Linked DNA regions of Homo sapiens: region 2 is linked to region 1. A link means that fine-mapping ties the variant in region 1 to the expression of a gene that starts in the linked region. Tissue or cell type: pancreas. Region 1 holds a variant in brackets; the other region holds the start of a gene. All regions are shown on one strand. Distances are between the middles of the regions.

Evidence for each region. PIP is the estimated chance that this variant, and not a neighbour inherited with it, causes the effect.
Region 2: it holds the start of C1orf115, and the variant in region 1 is fine-mapped to the expression of C1orf115 in pancreas (GTEx, PIP 0.91).

Annotation. Positions count from the first base shown.
Region 1 is chr1:220,705,705-220,715,880 of GRCh38, reverse strand. No RefSeq gene overlaps it. Among named protein-coding and RNA genes, the nearest start is that of C1orf115, 20 kb to the right of the region's middle. The variant T/C (reference allele first, on the strand shown) is at 4,857.
Region 2 is chr1:220,686,430-220,696,605 of GRCh38, reverse strand. It overlaps C1orf115 (chromosome 1 open reading frame 115), which reads right to left and starts at 6,243. Exons shown (of 2, transcript NM_024709.5): 1 at 5,895-6,243. The coding sequence starts at 6,203. RefSeq lists an enhancer at 1-201 and a silencer at 6,173-6,412.

The sequences.
Region 1 (10,176 bases):
TTTGTACTTCAAAGGACACCATCAAGAAATTGAAAGGACACCCCACAGAGTAGAAGACAATATTGGCACATTATAGATCTTATTATATAAGGGACTTGTATGCAGAATATATAAAGAACTGCTACAACTCAACAATCAGAAAAAGTAACTCAATTTTAAAACAAAGCATTTGAATAGGTAGTACTCCAAGAAGATACATAAATGACCAACATGCATAAGAAAAGACAATCCACATCATTAATCATTAGGGAAACAAAAATTGAACCATGGTGAAATATCACCTCACACCCACTAAGATGGCTATAATAAAAAAGATAACAATAAATGCTGGTGAAGATGTAGATAAACTGGAACCCTCATACATTCCTGATGGTAATGTAAAATGATGTAGCCACTATGGAAAAAAATTTGGCAGTTTTTCCAAAATGTTCTACATGGAGTTGCCAATAACCCAGCAATTCCATTCATAACTTGTGATATTATGATTATATGTTTAGGTTTTCCTCTATGGTTTCTGGCTAATAACTCCACTAGCCCTTGTTACAGTCTTTTACTATAATGTTGAGGTGTTTTAGCCTCAGAAGCAGGCCTCAGGAAATAGAATCTCTCTCTCTGACCTTCTCCTGTCCTCTTTACACCTTCCCAAGGCAAGCCTTTAATCTAACTGTGGGTCAAAAGACTCTCATTCCAGAAGCAGTCCTGCCTCAAACCCTGGGGAAAGGAATGCTATGCAGAGAGGCCACAAAAAGTCTGAATAGACAAGCTTACTGGGTTTAGATCAGGCACTTTTTGTCCAATCACATTTCTACATGGTTGTCAACCGTATCTATGTAATAAAGCCTCAATGACAACCCAAAGGGACATGGTTCAGAGAGCTTCCAGATAGTTGGAACATGGAGATCCTGGAGGGTGGCATGCCAGGAGAGGGCATGGAAGTTCTGCTTTCCCTCCCCCATGCCTCACCCTATGCCTCTCTTCATCTGTATCTTTTGTAATAGCCCTTATAATAAACCTGTAAACACAATTGTTTTTCTCAGTTCTGAGAGCTGCTCCAGCAAACTAATCAAACACAAATTAATCCAGCAAATTAATCCAGGGGGGCATGGGAACCCCAACTTAAAGATGGTTGATCAGAAGTTTTGGAATCCCAGACTTGTGACTGGGTCTAAAGCGGGGGACACAGTCTCAGGGGACTGATCCCTCAAACTGTGAGATCTGACACTATCTCCAAGTAGATAGTACCAGCACTGAATTAGAGGATGACCATTTGGGTGTCATCTACAGAATTCATTGCTTGCTTGCTGGTAGAGAGAAATACCCACATATTTTGAGGTCATAGAAGTCTTCTGTGTTCATTATTACTGTGTTGATGTGAGAACAGAGGGAAAAAAAATGGTTTGAAAAACATGTTAAACATAGTTGTATACCCAAGAGAAATGGGAATACATGTCCACACAAAATATGTACACAAATGTTCATAGCAAAATTATTCATAATAAACAAAAACACAGACACAACCCAAATATCAATGGATGAATGGCTGAACAAAATGTGATGTATCCAACCAATGGAATATTATTCAGCCCTGAAAACAAATGAGGCACTAATACATGCTACAACATGGATGAACCTTGAAAACATCACGCTGAGTGAAAGAAGCTAGTCATCAAAGGCCACATTTTGTTTTATTGCATTTATATGAAATGTCCAGAATAGGCAAATCCATAGAAAAATAAAGTTGGTTGGTAGGTATCTGGGGTTGGGAGAAAATTTGGATTGACCACTAATGGGTACATAGTCTCTTTTTGAAGTGATGAAAACATTCTAAATTAGATTTTGGTGATGTTTGCACACCCCTGAAAACATAGTAAAAACCATCGAATTATACACTTTAAATGGGTAAACTGTATGATATGTGAATGATATCCCACTAAATCTGTTTTTTTTTAAAAAGACTGTCCTTATATAAAAATGTTTGTTAGAGGATACAGCAGCAACTTAGAAACAGGGCTTACATTATAGTCAGGAAAATGGATTCCTTGCATGCAAATATAAAGCAAACTGCAGTTCAATAAGCTAATGTAAAATCAGTAACACTTTCAGAGCTAAGGGATTTCAGAGGTGGGAGGGGTCCTCTAGCCAGAGGAAGAGGGAGATAGGGAGAGGTTCAGAAAAAGCTTTCAGCTGGGCCTGAAAATGTGAAAATTCCTAAGTAGGAAAGTACAGAAGACCTAGACGTGTGGTCCTGCAGGCTGATCACATCATGGACAAAGGCAGAAAAGATGGAAATGTGAAGGACATGGCCGGGTGTGGTAGGTCACGCCTGTAATCCCAGCACTTTGGGAGGCCAACGTGGGCGGATCACTTGAGGCCAGGAGTTTGAGACCAGCCTGGCCAACATGGCAAAATCCTGTCCCTGCTGAAAGTACAAAAAAAGTAGCCAGGTGTGGTGGCAGGCGCCTGTAATCCCAGCTACTCAGGAGGCTGAGGCAGGAGAATCTCTTGAACCTGGGAGGCGGAGGTTGCAGTGAGCCGAGATGGCTCCACTGCACTCCAGCCTGGGCGACAGAGAAAGACCCTGTCTCAAAAAAAAAAAAAAAACTGTGAAGGACATGTTCAGAAAGTTTGGCTGTAGCCAAGGGTTTGTATAAGGAAGCAATGGATTTTTTTAAGTCAATTGAATAGGTTATAATGGTGTATTTTTGTGCTAATTTGCATTTCTATTATTATTGAGGATGTATTTGCAATGTTCTTTTTTTCCTTTTAATTTACAAGTGTTTTGTTTCAATTCTGCATATATTATAATTTATATTACACACACACTTTTTTTTAAATTTAACCCACAGTTCTATCTGAAATTTGGGTGAGAATATGGCATGATATAGGGATCTATTTAAATTATTATTTTTTACATAAATAGCGAATTGTCCCATCATCATTTATCAAGTAATCCACCCTTTCCAGATAGATTTAAAATGCCTCCTCCATCACATAAACAGTAGCTCCAAGCCCGCAGACCCCGTTTGTCGTCTGGTTTCTCATGCTTCCAGCACAGCACAGTGGTGTGCAGTTTGGGAAGCAAAGATCTTGCAGAGATCTATCCAGAAGAGAACACTGGAGGCCTCCCGAACAAGCAATAATAGAAGATTATGGTTCATTCCACACAGTCACTTCACAGTGTGCTGGAGAAGGCATCAAATGATCTAGCAAATGTCCATCACCGTATGTCTGAGTGGTGGAATTACCAGTGTTTTTCATATCCCTCTTTCCTCCATTCAAATCTTCTGTGAGTAAATATTCAGAAGACGAACAATAAATAGTAATCAAACAAAAACACTTTTAGGACATTTAAAGCCTTGAAAGGTTTAAAGTAACTCATCTGCAGGCACGTCTGGGTCCACCACGCAGTGTTATCCTGGGTGCAGGGGCCCCTAGAGATCTTTGTGCCCAAGCTCACCTGGCTGGCTCCCCGCAAGAGCAATCATCTCTAAGAGTGTGAGCCTATGGCTCCAGCCAATCCGGATCCATCTAAACTCTATTTCCCCAGGAGCAGTTCTCCCTTCCCTCAGCCTCTGCCTGAAACATCACCCCTTAACTGAATAACAAGGGGGTGCGCTGCATAAAAGTTGCTGCCCGACCAGGAGCCGTGGCTCACGCGTGTAATCCCAGCACTTTGGGAGGCCGAGGTGGGTGGATCACCTGAGGTCAGGAGTTCAAGACCAGCCTGACCAACATGGTGAAACCCTGTCTCTATTAAAAATACAAAAAAATTAGCCGGACGTGGTGGCGGGAGCCTGTAATCCCAGCTACTCAGGAGGCTGAGGCAGGAGAATTGCTTGAACCCGGGAGGTGGAGGTTGCAGTGAGCTGAGATCGCGCCATTGCATTCCACTCCAGCCTGGGCAACAAGAGGGAAACTCCGTCTCAAAAAAAACATTTTTTTTGCTGCCCATATTTCCCTAAGGAGAGGGGGATTTCACTGAACCCAATACTGTATTTGGAAGCCACAAAGTTGTTTCTTCCCTAAGTTTTGGAGAAATCAACATGGGGAACCCACAGACCCTCAAATGGGAAGAGAAGTGCTTGGGAAAGGGGAACTGCCTAGTGTAAAGTCCACCTGGATGACAAGCATAAAATGTATGTGTGTGTTGAGGGGAGTGGGAGAACCAGAGCAGAAAAAGCCTTTCGGGATCTATCTGGAGGGAAGGCATGACCAAGAACGGTGTGGAATCCACCCAGCCTGAGATGTCTCCTGTGGGGCCTTGTGCAAGGAGAGGCCTCTCGGTCTCACTTCCTCATTTGAATAAGAAGGATAATAACATCTATGTTACTGGGCTCTTATGAGGATTAAATGACGTGATACTGAGCACCTAGCAGGGCCTGAATTTTACTGAGGCGCGCGTGTTAATTTCCTCCACTCAGTTCTGCCTTATATGCACAAAAGGCACCACTTCTGTCCCCTTCAGGAGGGCCTGAAATGTGCCTTGAAGCAGACTCCAGAGCCAGGAGACACCAATGGGGAGTGTGTGTACAGTAAGTCTCTGTCTCCCCCAGGGAGGACAAGGTCAGGGACGGGGCCAACCATGTGACTGTACAGGTTCCAAGGTAAAAATGACAAGGGCACAGGAAATACTTTGGCTGCAGCAGAAAACCCCAGAGCTTGGCTTTGCACATTGTCTTTCTGGCCCAGCATAGAGGCATTGTGCAAATTAAACAAATAAACAGTAATCTTGGCCTTGGGCTCAAAAGTCTCCACATTCTCCTGTTTCTTCCTCCAGCTGGTGCCTTCCCTGTCGCTCAGACCAAAATCCCAGAGAATTATTTGGTTCCACGCTTTCCCTAAGTCCCACACTTACA[T/C]AGACAAATTTTGTTACCTCTGTTTTCTTTCCTTTCCTTTTTTGGGGGGTAGGGGGGCAAAGGGGTTGGGGACAGGGTTTCTCTTTGTTGCCCAGGTTGGAGTACAGTGGCAAAATTATAGCTCACTGCAGCTTCAAACTCCTGGGCTTAAGGGATCCTCCAGCCTCAGCCTCCTGAGTAGCTGGGACTACAGGTACATGTCACCATGCTCAGCTAAACATTTTTCATTTTTTTAGAGACAGAGTTCTCACTATGTTGCCCAGGCTGGTCTCAAACTCCTGACCTCAAGCAATCCTCCTACTCTGGCCTCCCAAGGCACTGGGATTACAGGCTTGAGCCAATGCACCCATTTCCTCAATATGGCTCCAGTGGGCTTTCTCTTTTCCATTGCTCCTGGACCACCCAAGGCCCCTTCCACTCCTCTCTGCTTCAGCAAGGCACACCCCAGGCCAGCCTGTTCCCATAGCAGTTAGAGGGATCTTTTCAAACCATGGAGTGGATCCTACTGCCACGCCTCCCCACTACTTAGAGCCTATCAAAAGTTTCCCCTTCACTTCCCCTCGCTGTCAATACAGCCTACAGGAAGTGGGGAGAAGGCACCTCCACTTCCCACCCCCACTCCCTTCCTCTCCCCTCTCCAGCGAAACTGGCTTCCCTTCCCAACCACGCTGAGCCCCCACCCTCCTGAAGGCACTGAAGGCATCCCTTCTGACAACCTCGCAGCTCTTATCCCTGCCCAGAGCGCCTGCCCCAAGGCTGTCAAGTCCTCCCACAGGCCTCCCTGCCCATCCACCGGAGGCTAAGGCCTCCTCATTTGCTTCCCCCATAGCAGCTGACTACTCATTTGTCTTTTATCCTTGGTCTGCCCCTCAGTAGGAGGCAAGGAGGCAGGCACCATGCCCCTGGTTGCTTGTGCACTGTCCCAGCCTAGTGACAGGTGCAGAGCAGGTGTCAGGTAACATTTGTTAAATGTCTGAGTGACTAAATAGATGAAAGAATTAGCCGGGCATGGTGGTGCATGCCTGTAGTCCCAGCTACTTGGGAGGCTGAGGCAGGGCATCCCTTGAACTCAGGAAGTTGAGACTGCAGTGAGCTGTGATTGCACCACTGCACTCCAGCCTGGGTGACAAAGACCCTGCCTCAAAATAAATAAATCAGTAGGTGAAAGGAATTGGTAATGAATGACACTATAGAGCCAAGCACACTTCTTTGACTCTCCAAGGTACAGTGTCACGGTGGGTTAGGGTAGGACCCTAAGCAGACACCCACATATTGGACTTCAGGCTGGCATGGAGCCCCAGAATTTGTATGGGAGCTTGAGTGCTGACTTTTTGGAGAGAACCCAGCACCGGTCATGCCAGCACCTCCTCTCTGGGCTGTGTTTGTCTGTCCTTGTTTACTATAAGAGATAGGAACAAAGTCAAAGTATTTTTCCTACTCACACACCCAACACTCAACACAAAACACTTCTGAGACCAGATGTTCCCCACACACTAAACACTTCTCCGGTAGACTCCAGCTGGGTGTCCTATAATTCAATCGATTTGGACCTGAGCCACCTGGAGTCAGTCAGATCCCTCAGGTTAAGGGCCCAGTCCTGCCAGACCGCCTCCTACTTCAGACGCCAATCCCAAGTGGTAGGTTGTCATCTATACTTCTGATCAACCAGCTATAAATCAGAGTTCTCATGACCTCTTCCTTAGGTTCAATTAATATGCTAGGATGGCTCACAGAACTCAGAGAAACACTTATGTTTACCAGTTTATTATCGTAATAAAGGCTGTGATAAGGATACAGACGAACAGCCAGATGTAGAGGTATATAGGGCAAGGTCTGGAAAGGTCTCAAGTGCAGGAACTTCTGTCCCCAAGGAACTGTGGTGTGCCACCCTCTCAGCATGTGATGTGTCTACCAACCAGGAAGCTCTCTGAACCTTGTAGTTCAGGGATTTTTTTTAAGTTTCATTTCATTTATTTATTTTTAATTTCAACTTTTAGGTTCGGGGGCACATGTGCAGGTTTTTTACATTAGTATATTCTATGATGCTGAGGTTGGGTGTAATTGATCCTGTTAGAGAAATGCAAATCAAAATCACAATGAGATACCATTTCATACCAGTCAGAATGGCTATTTTGTTCATTTCTAATTTTTGTGGGTACATAATAAGTGTATATATTTATGGGGTACCTGAGATATTGATATTTTTGATACAGGCATACAATGTGTAATAATCACATCAGTGTAAATGAGGTATATATTGCCCTCAAGAATTTTTTTTTCTGTTTTTTAAATCATTTATTTTTTTTAATTTTAATTTCTGGGATACATGTGCAGAACCTATGCAGGCTTGTTACATAGGTATACATGTGCCATGGTGGTTTGCTGCACGTGTCAACCCATCATCTAGGTTTTAAGCCCCACATGCATTAGGTATTTTCCCTAATGCTCTCCCTCCCCTTGCCCCCACTCCCTGACAGGCCCCCAAGTGTGATGTTTCCCTCCCTGTGTCCATGTGTTCTCATTGTTCAACTCCCACCACTTGAGTGAAGCTCAGGGAATTTTTGGAGGCTTCATCACATGGGCACGATCAATTATTAACTCAGTCTCCAGCCCCTCCCTTCTTCTCAGAGGATGGGGGATGGGGCCGAAATCTCCAAGCTTCTAAACATGGCTTGTTCTTTCTGATGCCCAGCCCCCATCTAGGAGCCCACCAAGAGGTGCCTCATTAGAACAAAATATGTTCCTATCGCCCAGGAAATTATAAGAGTTTTAGGAGCTCTGTAACAGGAACCAGGGGCAGAGACCAAATATACATTTCCTATCTTATCAGTACTATGGTTTGAATGTGTCCCCTCCAAAATTCAGGTGTTGCTAATGGGATGGTATTAAGAGTTGGGTCTTTCAAAATGTGATTGGGCCACGAGGGCTCCTCCCTCATGAATGGGATTAGGGCCCTTATAAAGGAGCTTGACAGAGAGTTCACCCCTCTTGCCCTTCTGCCTTTGTCCATGTGAGGGGACAGCCTTCCTTTCCTCCAGAGGACGCAGCAACAAGGCGCCATCTTGGAAGTAGAGAGCAGCCCTCAGCAGACACTGAACCTGCCAATGCCTTGACCTTGGAATTCCCAGCCTCCAGAACTGTGAGAAGATAACTTTATTCTTTATAAATTACTTTGTCTGTGGTATTCTATTACAGCAGCACACATGACTAAGACATCACAAGATCTCATTCACTCTTCAGCAGATGGACACAGAGCCCCTGCTCCATGCCAGGCATCGTTGAAGGCATGAGGATTCAGCAGCGAACAAACCTGTCCCTGCCCTCACAGAGGTGACATTCGAGTTGGGGGAGTGAACCTGCAAACAAGTGAGCAAACTGATGGAGAAGTAAGTACGGACAGGGCTGGTCATGAGCAGGGGGCTGTGAGGAAGTCACACCTTAGATGCGGTGGGGCTGGGGCTTAGGCGAGTTCGTCACTTTGCTTCAGTGTCCTCATCTGTGAGATGAACTAATGAGCGTCTCTCCCTTTAGGGCCCTGCCCTCCTCTGTTCAAAATCGTGCAGCAGTGCGTCATCCCACTCTGAGCAAGAGCCAAGTCTTCACACGGCCCATGAGGCCTGCGTGATGGCCCCATCCCCAGCTCCACGCCCCCCAACCCAGCTCCCTGTCCCTCTGCTCCTCCTGGGCATCCTGCTGTTCCTCAGTCAGGCCAGGCAACACATGGGACAAATGCCATCCACATCCGGACCACACCTAGGGCAGCCTGTGGACAGCCCCCAGAACTATAGCTGAGGGTCCCACCCTTCCCACCCACGCACACTTTCTGAACACTCTGCTCCAGGCAAAGGGTACCTGAGTGCAGCAGCAGGGCCGTTGGAGCAGCTTTCTCAGGGCTGTCAGCAGTGACCCAGGGAGACCTCCCTCACAGCCTACTTCCTTGTTCCTGAGCAGAGCTATCCAATGGAAGTACCCAGAGCCCACACACTCCCTACAGATTTTTATGTTGGACATAAAACAATGAACAGAGACTAATGTTGCCCTAGATGTACCAAGCCTCCTATAGAGATTTGTACTGTTTCCTTTCTTGCCTTCTTCTTTCCCTCCTTCCCTCTCCCAGCCAAACATGAAGCACCCACTATATGCAAACATCAGGCTGGGGCCAGTAGGGGAAACCATATCTGTGAACAGGTAATTCTCATACGCAGCAGAATAAGACAGGGGCTGAATATCGGGACACACATCGTGCTCCCCTGTCCAGAGGCTGATTCATTCCAGCTGCTGAGATCAGGGAAGGTTTCATTCAGGCGGGGCCCTTGCTTTGAGAGAGAAGCAGAATTTAAAGTGCAGAGTGGGGAGGCTGGGGTGAAGGCCGGGAGTGGCCTCTCCTGGCCAATCCTGACTGTTCTGCCACTGGGAACCTTGGTCAGGAGGGAGCCCAGGGCAGAGCGGATGGTGGGGTTGGGAAAAACAGCCGCAGGGCCAGCAAAACAACACAGATACCTATCCGAGATGGGGCAGAAGCGATTCCCATTGTTTTTGTTTCCTTTGTGGGGGGCAGCGTGAGAGGAGGCGGCAGGCCTGATATTGTCAGAGTGGCCTTGGGAGCTGCTTAAGAAGTCAAGAGGGAGCCCAATAGGAAATGGCCCTCATGAAATGAAAGACAATGATCCAAAAAAAACAAGAGGTGATTTTCTTAGAGGCAGGACAGGAGAAAACACCTCAGACTCAGCATGCCAGAGCAGGGAGGGATGAATGTACCATCTACTTCAACCGCACTGTTTTGCAGAAGATGCCCAGATTCAGCTAGGTGGGTGACTGGTTCGAGGTCACATGTGGCTGATTGCCTTGCTGACTCCCAGTATAGCGCTCAGGTTGCTTCCTGGGGCTGAGAACAGGCAGAAAGGAAAGCCCTAAATGCTTTCTTTCTCCCTGCCTCCTGTGTCAGCTGAGCATGGCTCCAAATTCCCAGCTAAGCAGGACAACTTGCCCAGGTGTCCGGGATGACCTCATGGCATAGCGCCTCAGCAGGGCCTTAAGAGGAGGAGGCTACTGCCCCACCGCTCCCTGGCCTTGGAGGTCAAGGTCTCCTGATAATTCCCTGCCAACTAGCATCCGTCGCTCTAAAGCCCAGGCTATCTAGGAGGGCTGGCTCCAGTCCCGACCAATCAGAAGAGCAAACAGGTTATTATCATTATTATTATGATAACAACAGATTATTTTATGCTTGCAGCAGAAGGCACCTGCTTTGTAAAGGCTTCTGTTTGCCAAGGTCAGTTCATGATTGAGGCACCCGCCACTGCCCTCTCCCTGCCAGCCCCTG
Region 2 (10,176 bases), 19 kb after region 1:
TTAGGAATAAAAGAGAAAAGCAAAGGATTAGGGTAGGCAACTTTTTAATTCTGCCATCTTTCATGAAAAAAAATGAGTCACGGCGACATATATAAAGATCATTTTTCCTGATTCTCTTGTGACAAATCAGCAAGTTACCACATTCCCACATCTCTGGTGGAAGGTGCCCACCTCCAGCCTAAGAATATGTAGCGGCTCACAGCAGACATCATCACCTTGCAAAGTGCTTTCAAGCACAGCTTATTTCCAGATAATTCAAAGACCTTCTTGGAAACAGCAGTAAGGCTGCTAATTCTAAAACTAAAGCAGTTTTATTTTGTTTTTTAAACCAAAGATCACTCCTCTTCTCTGTTCCAGCTAAAAATTACTGGACCGTCAGAAGGCTGGGTTAAGTTTTCCTTCCTTCACCTTATCTGAAAGCCCATCTTCTCCTCCTTCTACCTCAATGGCATATTTCTGTCTGACCCACACATCTGTCCTTTTGTAGTCTTCTGCCATTTTCTAATTGCTATATCTATGTAAGTCCAGCATTTCCAATACCATTATAAGCTCCCTGATGGTCAGGCTTGGGCAATGCTTTCTTGGTAACCACTCCTCCTCTTCCTTTTCTACAAGGCTGGGTAGGGGACATTCAGGGAATGTCAGGTGCTAGACAGGGGACATCTAAAGGACTCAAATGTGATTGCAACAGAAAAATTACCACCACCACCACCAAACATTTATTGCACGGCTGCCCATGGTCTTCCCCTCCGTACCTCAACTTCTGTCATCACTCTTGGTGATATCAATGTCCATGCAGATAACCTGTGCCTTAGGCCACATACCTTGTCTCTCAGTCCTTTGACTTTTCCATATTACCATAACCACTCAGACTGGTTTAACTTAAAATTCCTGATCACAATCACATATCTCACCTTGACTTCCAACACCACCTGACAAACCTCCACATCTGTCCAGTAGGATGAATTTCTCTCTCCCCCGGGTACTGCCTCATACCTTTTCCCTTCTTAAGCCTCCCCACTTGCAACACACACGAACACACCCAAGTCTCCATACCTTCATGAGATGATCCCACTTCACCTTTCACAGAAAAAAAAAAAAAAAAAAAAAACCCAGACATCGTCAGGGAACACGTTCACCTTCCACCACTCTCAACAGCCCTGCCTGTGGCTGCCCCTGGCTTCTCCCGCATTGCCTGTGTTACGGTGGAGAAAGTGGTCTTCTTCCCCCAAGCCATTCCCTTGATACTTGGTGTCAGTGCCTTCTCCCACCTTGATCTTGGCTTTCCCTTCACCACCTCCATCATTCGCTTCCTCTCCATTGGATCCCATTAGCTTACATACATGCTCGGGTATCACCGTGACTCCATATCCTGCCCCAGTCTCTGCCCTCCATCGTGCCAAGCCAGCCAAAAGAGCCAACCACATATACTGCCTCCATGTCTGCGCTTCTTATTCCCTCTGACTCCGGCTCCTACCCCAACCCATGAGGGACTGTCTGGTCATGGCCATCTACAACCCCCATGCTGCCTGACCCAGTGGACGCTTTTCTGTCTTTCTCTCCCTGACCTCTCAGCAGCTTTTGACATACTTTATGAAATAATCATGTGGCGTCTTTGACTCCATATTCTTAGTTCTCCCCTACCTAAATAGGGAGCTCCTCCTCAGCTTTCTTTGCTAAATTATCCCTTCTACCAGACTTTAAAATGTTGGTGTTGTTCAATACTCAGTCCTGGGTCTTTCCTTCTCTCTTTCTTTCCCTACAGTCTCTCCTTAGATGGTCTCATCCATTTCTAATGACTACAAGTATCTCCTAGATTTGAAGAACTCTTTAGTTCAGACTCAAATATTCAATTCGTTACTTGAGATCTCCACTTTTTGAAGACCCCACAATTCCTCTGGCATGCACTCTCCCTTGTAGCCCTAAGCACATAAACCTAACGTGGATTGGCTACTGGCATGTCCCTGGTGGCCTTTGTCTATCAGACTTCAATCATTCAAAGCACAGAGAGATTACATCTGTCCACATGTATATATCTGGTTAGGGGCAGAGCTGAAGTTCAATCCCAAAGAAATCTCACTTCAGGGCCTATGACCTTAACCCCCATACTATGTTTCCCTTTTTAAATAAAGGCAATATGTAAGCTTCTAGTTAACCACTCATGCCCTGGGCTTGAATTCCAACTCTATCACTTACTTAATTTCCCATGGCCTCGGTTTCCTCACCTATACAATGGGAATATTTAGTAACCACCTCATTGGGTTGTTAAGAGGAGTAAATGAGATCATGTAAGCAAAGCACTGAGAACAGGGCCTGGCACAAACTGCAGGCAGTATAAGTGCCCCCCAATGTCAGCTATTATTACTGCTAAATAACATCTGCTTCTTTTGATTACATAGCAATTTAGGTTTGTGGTGGTGATAGATAAACCCAATATTTTTGTTGTCTGTTTGGGAAAGTTTCTTAAGACTATAATTTCCTATGACTTCTGGCTTACTTGAGCTTTTTTTTTTTTTTTTTTTTTTGAGACCGCGTTTTGCTCTTGTTGCCCAGTCTGGAGTGCAATGGCGCGATCTCAGCTCACTGCAACCTCCACCTCCCAGGTTCAAGCGATTCTCCTGCTGCAGCCTCCCAAGTAGCTGGGATTATAGGCATGCACCACCGCGCCAGGCTAATCTTTTTGTATTTTTAGTAGAGACAGGGTTCACCATGTTCGTCAGTCTGGTTTCCAGCTCCTGACCTCAGGTGATCCACCCGCCTCAGCCTCCCAAAGTGCTGGGATTACATGTGTGAGCCACCACACCCAGCTGAGCTTTCAATAGTTTAAATTACAGGGTCCCTCACAGTAACAGAAGGAGGGCAGGGACTCTGTTGTGCTCATTACTGTATCCTGAGCATGTAGAAAGAGGCTGAGTGTTTCCTTTGGTACCTCTCCCGCTAAATGAGGAGCTTTGCAAGAACCAAGTAATGTCTGTGTCTTCTCTAGACACTGCTTTCCTGGACATTACCCTGTTGATGTCTCAAAGAGACACTGGGCTGGGGCATGCGCATGTGTGGGTATGTGATGTTGCTAAGAGATACAGTTCTTTAAATGTGTGATAAGAATCACTGGGGGAATTTTACTTACATGTTTGAAACAACAAAAGAAAAACATATTCTCTGGGAACAAGCTTAACAATCAAGAGTGATCCATTATAAACAAGATCAGAATGACAATCGCCTGCATTAAACGTGACATTTTTGGTATTTGTACATCCATTTTGCTCAGCCTGTTATACTTTAAAAGCTACTTGTCACTTTGTAATTTAGGGAAAAAAAATCTACTAAAATAGTTCATTAACTGGAACACTGTTAAAAACACAGATTTGAGAAATGAAATGCAAAGAAACATAAAATATCTCTCAACCACTATTTCAGTGTCATTTAAGAGAGTGCATTTGGAATTCTTTGATCTGAGTAGAGCTTTCTACCCAACTACTCTCTCAGAGGGGAGCTGGGGTCTCGGGGAACAAAGAGGGGTCACCTGCTTTATATCTCCATGTTTGAGCCTGGTGACCCTCTCAGGTGGCTCCAAGAAAGTAGAAGCTGAAGTCACTTTTGAAGGGCAGAAAGGAGAGATCCAACCCTAACCTGACGACATCCTCTCACCTGGCCTCCTGGGTCCATTGAACTAGCGTGCAACACTCTAGAGCTTTCATGCCCACAGCTGGGCTTGTGATGGCCCCTCTACCTGAGATGACACCACTTCTCTATCCACTGAAATCTTGTTTTTTTTGTTTGTTTTAGTTAAGGCAAAATTCACATAACATAAAATTCACCATTTTAAAGTGCGTACAGCCCGGTGGCATTTAGTACATTTACATTGTTGTGCAACCACCACTTCTATCTAGTTCCAAAACATTTTCATCATCCCCAGGAAAAAACACATTACCCATTAAGCAGATGGGCTCCATTCCTCTTTCCCGCAGTCCCTGGCAACCACCAATCTGTGTTCCATCTCCATGGGTTGACCTATCCTAAGCATTCCATACAAATGGAATCATACGCACAATATGTGATCTTGCGGGTCTTGTTTACTTCACTTAGCATAATATTTTTAGAGGTTCATCATATTGTAGCATGGATTAGTACATTTCCTTCCTTTTATGGCTGAATACTATTCCATTGTATGTATATAACACACTTGTTTATGCATTCATCCATTTAGGGACATTTGGGTTGTTTCCACCTTTTGACTATTGTAAATAATAATTCCATTAAAATGTGTATATAAACATTGATTTGAGTACCTGTTTTCAATTCTTTGGTTACATCCCTAGGAGTGGAACTGCTAGATCACAGAATAAGTCTACACTGAACTTTTTAAGGAACTCCCAAATTGTTTTCCACAGCAGCTGTCCCATTTTACATTCCCACCAGCAATGTACAATGGTTCCAATTTCTCTACATTCTCGCCAACATTTGTTATTCGGTTTGTTTGGACATTTTTTGGAGTAGCCGTTCTAGTGGGGATGAAGTGTGCCTACTTCATACCACTTCACTGTTATCTGGTGAAATCTTAACTCATCCTTCTGTGCCCAGTTTTCATGTCACCGTGATTTGAAAACTTCCCTGAGTTTACAAGCTCACCGCTGAGGAGTGAACTGCCTGAGCTCTGTGCCCTGAAGCCCCCCCGGGGGCGGGGGGAGCCAGCTATGTCAGTGTCTCCCTGGGAGGCTGTGCCCTTCTCTAGGGCAGGGCTGCACTGTATTCATTTTCGCATCTCTACTGCTCAGCACAATGCCTGACGCATAATGAGTGCCCCCAAAATATCTTCAAGTCCTAGTCCTTGAGCTGAGGTTTCTGCAGTATCAGTTCACCAATGGAGAGGGACATGATGGCTTCTTTGTGCTCAACTGGGACCCAAAGCAGAGATGAATCGTCCTAGCAGGGCTCTAAGCCTGAAAGACCCAACTTTATAGTTTTACCCCTGCCTGTATTCTGCTCCAGAAGCTGCTGACATACCTTTAAAGAGGATGATAAACCTAAGCTCCCAGGCATGGAGACTGAATGGCTTCAGGTGTAAGACGGCATTGGGCAACACAGATAAATAGACAATAAATCAGATGGGGCCCGTGGCCTTTGGCCAGGACACAGTAACTTCTGTGACTTTATTCTGGGTGGCCTTGTCCAGGCCAGCAGAGCTTCCGGCAGCAGCTTCGACTGTTTCCATGCAGAGACACCTGGGAACTGCATCTGCGCTTTGATTTCCGCGAAGGAAACTGTCATTTTCTCCCATATTCATTCTTCCTAACCCCATCTCCCCGAGACAAACGGCAGAATGTTTTGAAGGCCCCAGAGTACACTGATAGTTGGCTAGACGAGAAAAATTCAACGAGCGCCTATTTATGTATTTGTTGCGCTCCCAGGCTCGGGAAATAACCTTGGGAATATTTGGGAGAGTAACCCAAACATTTCTCAACTAGTGGGATATCCTGGAGGGGATGTTACTGGAAAACAAATACACTGGGTTGCAATTTCTTTCTTTCCAACTGGGCCACCTTCTCCAAGTCACCTGCCGCGCTAACGCTTCAGTATTCCCATCTGTAATCAGGAAACTGATTCCTGATCTTACATAAAAACCACCGCGGTAGGAGCCCCTTGAGAATGTTCTTAAGAAGCCAGGAGCGCAATAGCAGGCACAGCAGGGACCACCCAGCGCAACCCCCGATTTAAGTTTCTATCACGACTCGCAACTCGCGGCTTCCCTCCGGCGAGGGAATGGGAGCGGGGGCGGAGGGGTCGCAGGTGCAGCCCGGAGAAACTGGGTGAGTCGATGGTAAGGACCCGGCTCCCGCTCCCCCGCGGGACACCACACCCGCGCCCCCCGGGCAGTGGTGGCGCAGGGCCCCTACCTTGCCGTACTTCTTCAGCTTCCTCCGGTACCTCTTCCTGGGCTGCTCGCTCGGCGCCGGCTCCTCCAGTGGCTCGTAGCGCTCGGGCAGGAGGGCGAAGTGCACCCTCCGCGCGCCCCGGGTCCCCGGGCCCCGCTCGTCCGCCGCGCTCGTCCCGCTCTCGGCCGCCGCCTCCGCCTCGTCCGCGTACTCCAGGTGCTCCAGGATGGCGGCCGCCTCCTCGTCCCCCTCGGTTCGCCCTCGCCCTCGGGGCCCGCGGCGCAGGAGGCTGCTCTCCGCCTTGCTTCGGAGCCTGGCTCCCACCGTCATGATGTCCCGGCCCCTCTGGCGAAGGTCCGAGCGCAAAGACACCAACCTTTGGTCCCCGCCCGCTCCTCCGCCCCAGCCCGGACGGGGCGGGGGATTGGGGGGGCCGCAGCGCCCCCTGGCCGTGGGGCCCGGGATAGCGTTGGCTCCGCTCCGAACTGGCCTACCAGGCGGCGGGCGCGCTCCGCCAGCCCCGCCCTTCATCCCACCTGCCGGCCAAACTGTGCAGACTACGGCGCGCACTGCACAATGAACATGCAAAACACCTTCAACTGCACTTGCTACGAAATTAATGACCCCAAATAATAGGACTCCATCTGCTCATGTTCAAATTAGCAACGATGGAAAATGATACTAGAGATCACGCTCAGTGCTAGGGAGGGCATGGCGAGATAGTCACGGTAACAGGATTCGTGGGAGTGCAAATTGGTGGCAAGGTTTTGGAGAGACGATCAGAAAATCTTTATCGTGAGTCTTAGGAAACGTCCGTATTCTAGGAAATATTCGGAAACGCAAGACAGTGTGTCCACGGTGTTCAACGGTCTGACTCAGTGAAAAAGTGGAGCAAACCAACAGGGAGGCGCAAAGGAAATTCTGGTGCAGACATGCCAGCATATGGCGCAGTCTTTAAAATCATGATTTTCAGGAATATCTCTCTGTGAGATAAGCATTATCAGTGTACTGTGAATCTCAACAAGCTGAGAGTGCCCTATTTTCTTAAGTGGGTAAATGCCTTTGAATTCTGGCTAATGTAGAATTAAGGGCCGAAAGCAGTGGCTCACGCCTGTAATCCCAGCACTTTGAGAGGCCGGGAGGATAGCTTCAGCCCAGGAGTTGGGGAACAGCCTGGGCAACATAGTGAGACCTCCATCTCTAGAAAAAAAAAAAAAAATTAGCCAGGCGTAGGGGCGCACACCTGTGATCCCAGCTATTCAGGAGGATCGCTTGGGCCTGGGAGTTTGAGACTAGCCTGGGCAACACAGGGAGACCTCATCTCTAGAAATAGAAAAACAAATACAAAAGTTTACCTGTAGTCCCAGTGAGGTAGGGAGATCGCTTGATCCTGGAAGGTGGAGATTGCAGTGAGCTATGATTGTGCCACTGCGCTCCAAAGGGGTCGACAGAGTGAGATCCCATCTCAAAAAAATACTTAGGTATAAAATAACATAGATTGTTAGATACACTGATATTTTAACATTAAAGTTTGTGATTAAATTTAAGAATAACGTGTATATGTTGGTATAAGCACATACAATGTTTACGACAATTTAGTTCACTAGGATGCAAAAGAAATTAGTTTTGTGATTCCAACTTAAAATGTGAGCCAGCATGGTGACTTTCACCTGTAATCCCAGCAACTCCACAGGCTGTGGTGGGAGGATCCCTTGAGGCTAGGAGTTCTGAGCAACGTAGGCCCCATTTCTAAAAAAGTGAAAATGTGTGGCTCGGTGCGGTGACTCACACCTGTAATCCCAACACTTTGGGAGACCAAGGCGGTGGATCACCTGAGGTCAGGAGTTCGAGACCAGCCTGGCCAATATAGTGAAACCCTGTCTCTACTAAAAATACAAAAATTAGCCAGGCATGGTGGCGTGCTCCTGTAGTCTCAGCTATTCGGCAGGCTGAGGAGGAGAATCGCTTAAACCCAAGAGGCAGAGGTTGCAGTGAGCGGAGATCGTGCCACGGCACTCCAGCCTGGGCAACAGAGTGAGACTCTGTCTCAAAAAAAAAAAAAAAAGTAATCAGCTAATTGATTTACGCTTTTATTTAACTTATGTAATAAGGTAATAAGTAATGACTTATATTTAATCTTAAAAACATAGAGTCTTTATATGTAAAATAGTATATAAAATTTATGTACAATTCAATTTCAGGTGAAATGGGTATGAAAATGAATTTAACTTACTATATTTATAAGAATTACTTAGAGTTTTGTTATAGAATTGAAGTACTTGAAAAGAAAGTCAAATATTAAATTTGTAAAAGTTGCTTGAAATGTTTAGGAGAATTAACTAAACAGTAAAAGTGCCTCCTTACAGTAATTGTAAAATTTTATCGGGTGAGTAAATAGTTTAAAACAGTATGTAATTTGAATTTAAAAGGTTAAGAGAAAGTAGATTTGTAGATTTGTAATTTTGCTAAAGCAACTATTACTTTATAAACAAACAGAGACCCTTGTAGTCCCTTTTTTTTTTGTACAAAACCGACCTCAAAGAACCCTAGGCTGCTTATCAAATGGTGATATAGTTTGGTTCTATGTCCCCACCAAATTTCATGTTGAATTGTAATCCCCACTGTTGGAGGTGGGGCCTGGTGGGAGGTGATTGGATCATGAGGGTGGCCCTTCATGAATGACTTAGCACCATCCCCTCAGTGCTATCCTAGTAATAGTGAGTGAGTTATCGCGAGATCTGGTCGTTTAAAAGTGGGTGGTGTGCACCTCCCCCTTCTCTCTCTCATCTTCCTTCTTTGGCCATGTTTGCGTGTTTCCCCTTTACTTTCTGCCATGATTGTAAGTTTCCTGAGGCCTCCCCAGAAGCAGAAGCCATCATGCTTCCTGTATAGCCAGCAGAACTGTGAGCAAATTAACCCTCTTTTCTTTATAAATTACTGAGTCTCAGGTATTTCTTTATAGCAGTGCAAGAACGGACTAATACAAATAGAGACGAAGGTAGAACATCCATGGGCCTAAAATGTGTTTTTGTCAGTACAAAATACTGTTCAAATATCACAACAACATTTAGTTTGCCTTTAAAGGCAAAACACTAGAACAATTAAAAATTGATCTCCAGATTAAGTCTCTATAACCAGTGAACAAGCAGAATTTAAGGAGATGTAATCAGAAACTGTCTTTATGTTGCATTCCCTTGTCTCTCTACAAGTTATTCTGTTCAGAGAATGAGTCTCTTGCTCCTCGGTGAAAACTTAGGTAGTCTTGTAGGGTTTTTTGTTTGTTTGTTTGTTTGAGACAGAGTTTCACTCTTGTTGCCCAGGCTGGAGTGCAATGGTGCGATCTTGGCTCACGGCAATCTCCGCCTCCCAGGTTCAAGTGATACTCCTGCCTCAGCCTCCCGAGTAGCTGGGATTAGAGGCATGCGCCACCATGCCTGGCTAATTTTATATTTTCTAGTAGATACGGGGTTTCTCCATGTTGGTCAGGCTGGTCTCGAACTCCTGACCTCAAGTGATCCACCCGCCTAGGCCTCCCAAAGTGCTGGGATTACAGGCGTGAGCCACCACGCCCAGCAGTCCTGTAGTTTTTCTATTCACACAGAAGTAATAAGTCCCAACCTCTGTCTCAAAAAAAAAAATAAAATAAAAATAAACAAATAAATAACTAAACATAATCTTCATCTATATAATCCTAAATCGTATAATGTTCAATTCCATGTAATACTCAGAACCTTGAACTTGATTTAAAGTAAATCTTCTCTCCTCAGGCAGCACCTGATGTGGGTGTGTACCTGTGTGCAGTGGTGGTGAGAGAGTAGGGACTGGGGAGAAACAACAATTTCTCTTCTGCTTCCCCCACCTAGTGTTTCTCAGTCTCCCAAGCTTGTAAACTGGTTTCTGACTCTTCCAGGGCCAAAACAGAGAAGAGTGCAGAAAACATCTTCCATGGCTAGTATTGCCCAAGGTGTTGTCTCACCCACAAGGCCTACCAGGTGTTTGAAGCTGGTTGTCCATAGTTTTTTACAGGCCCTCACTGGAAACATTCTACTCTACTGGTTATGACCCAGCAAATACCCTTGAATCCCTGATCACCTATGCCCTTCTCAATCTCCAAGGGTCCTGTGGTTCCATGCCAATGCTATGGTCTGAATGTCTGTGTCCCCCCTTCAACCCCCAAATTCATGTGTTAAATTTCTAACCCCAAGTTGATGGTATTGGGCATGGGAGGCCTCTGGGAGGTGATTAGGTCATGAAATGTAGCCCTCATGGGACTAATGTCCTTATAAAAAGAGGCCCAAGAGAG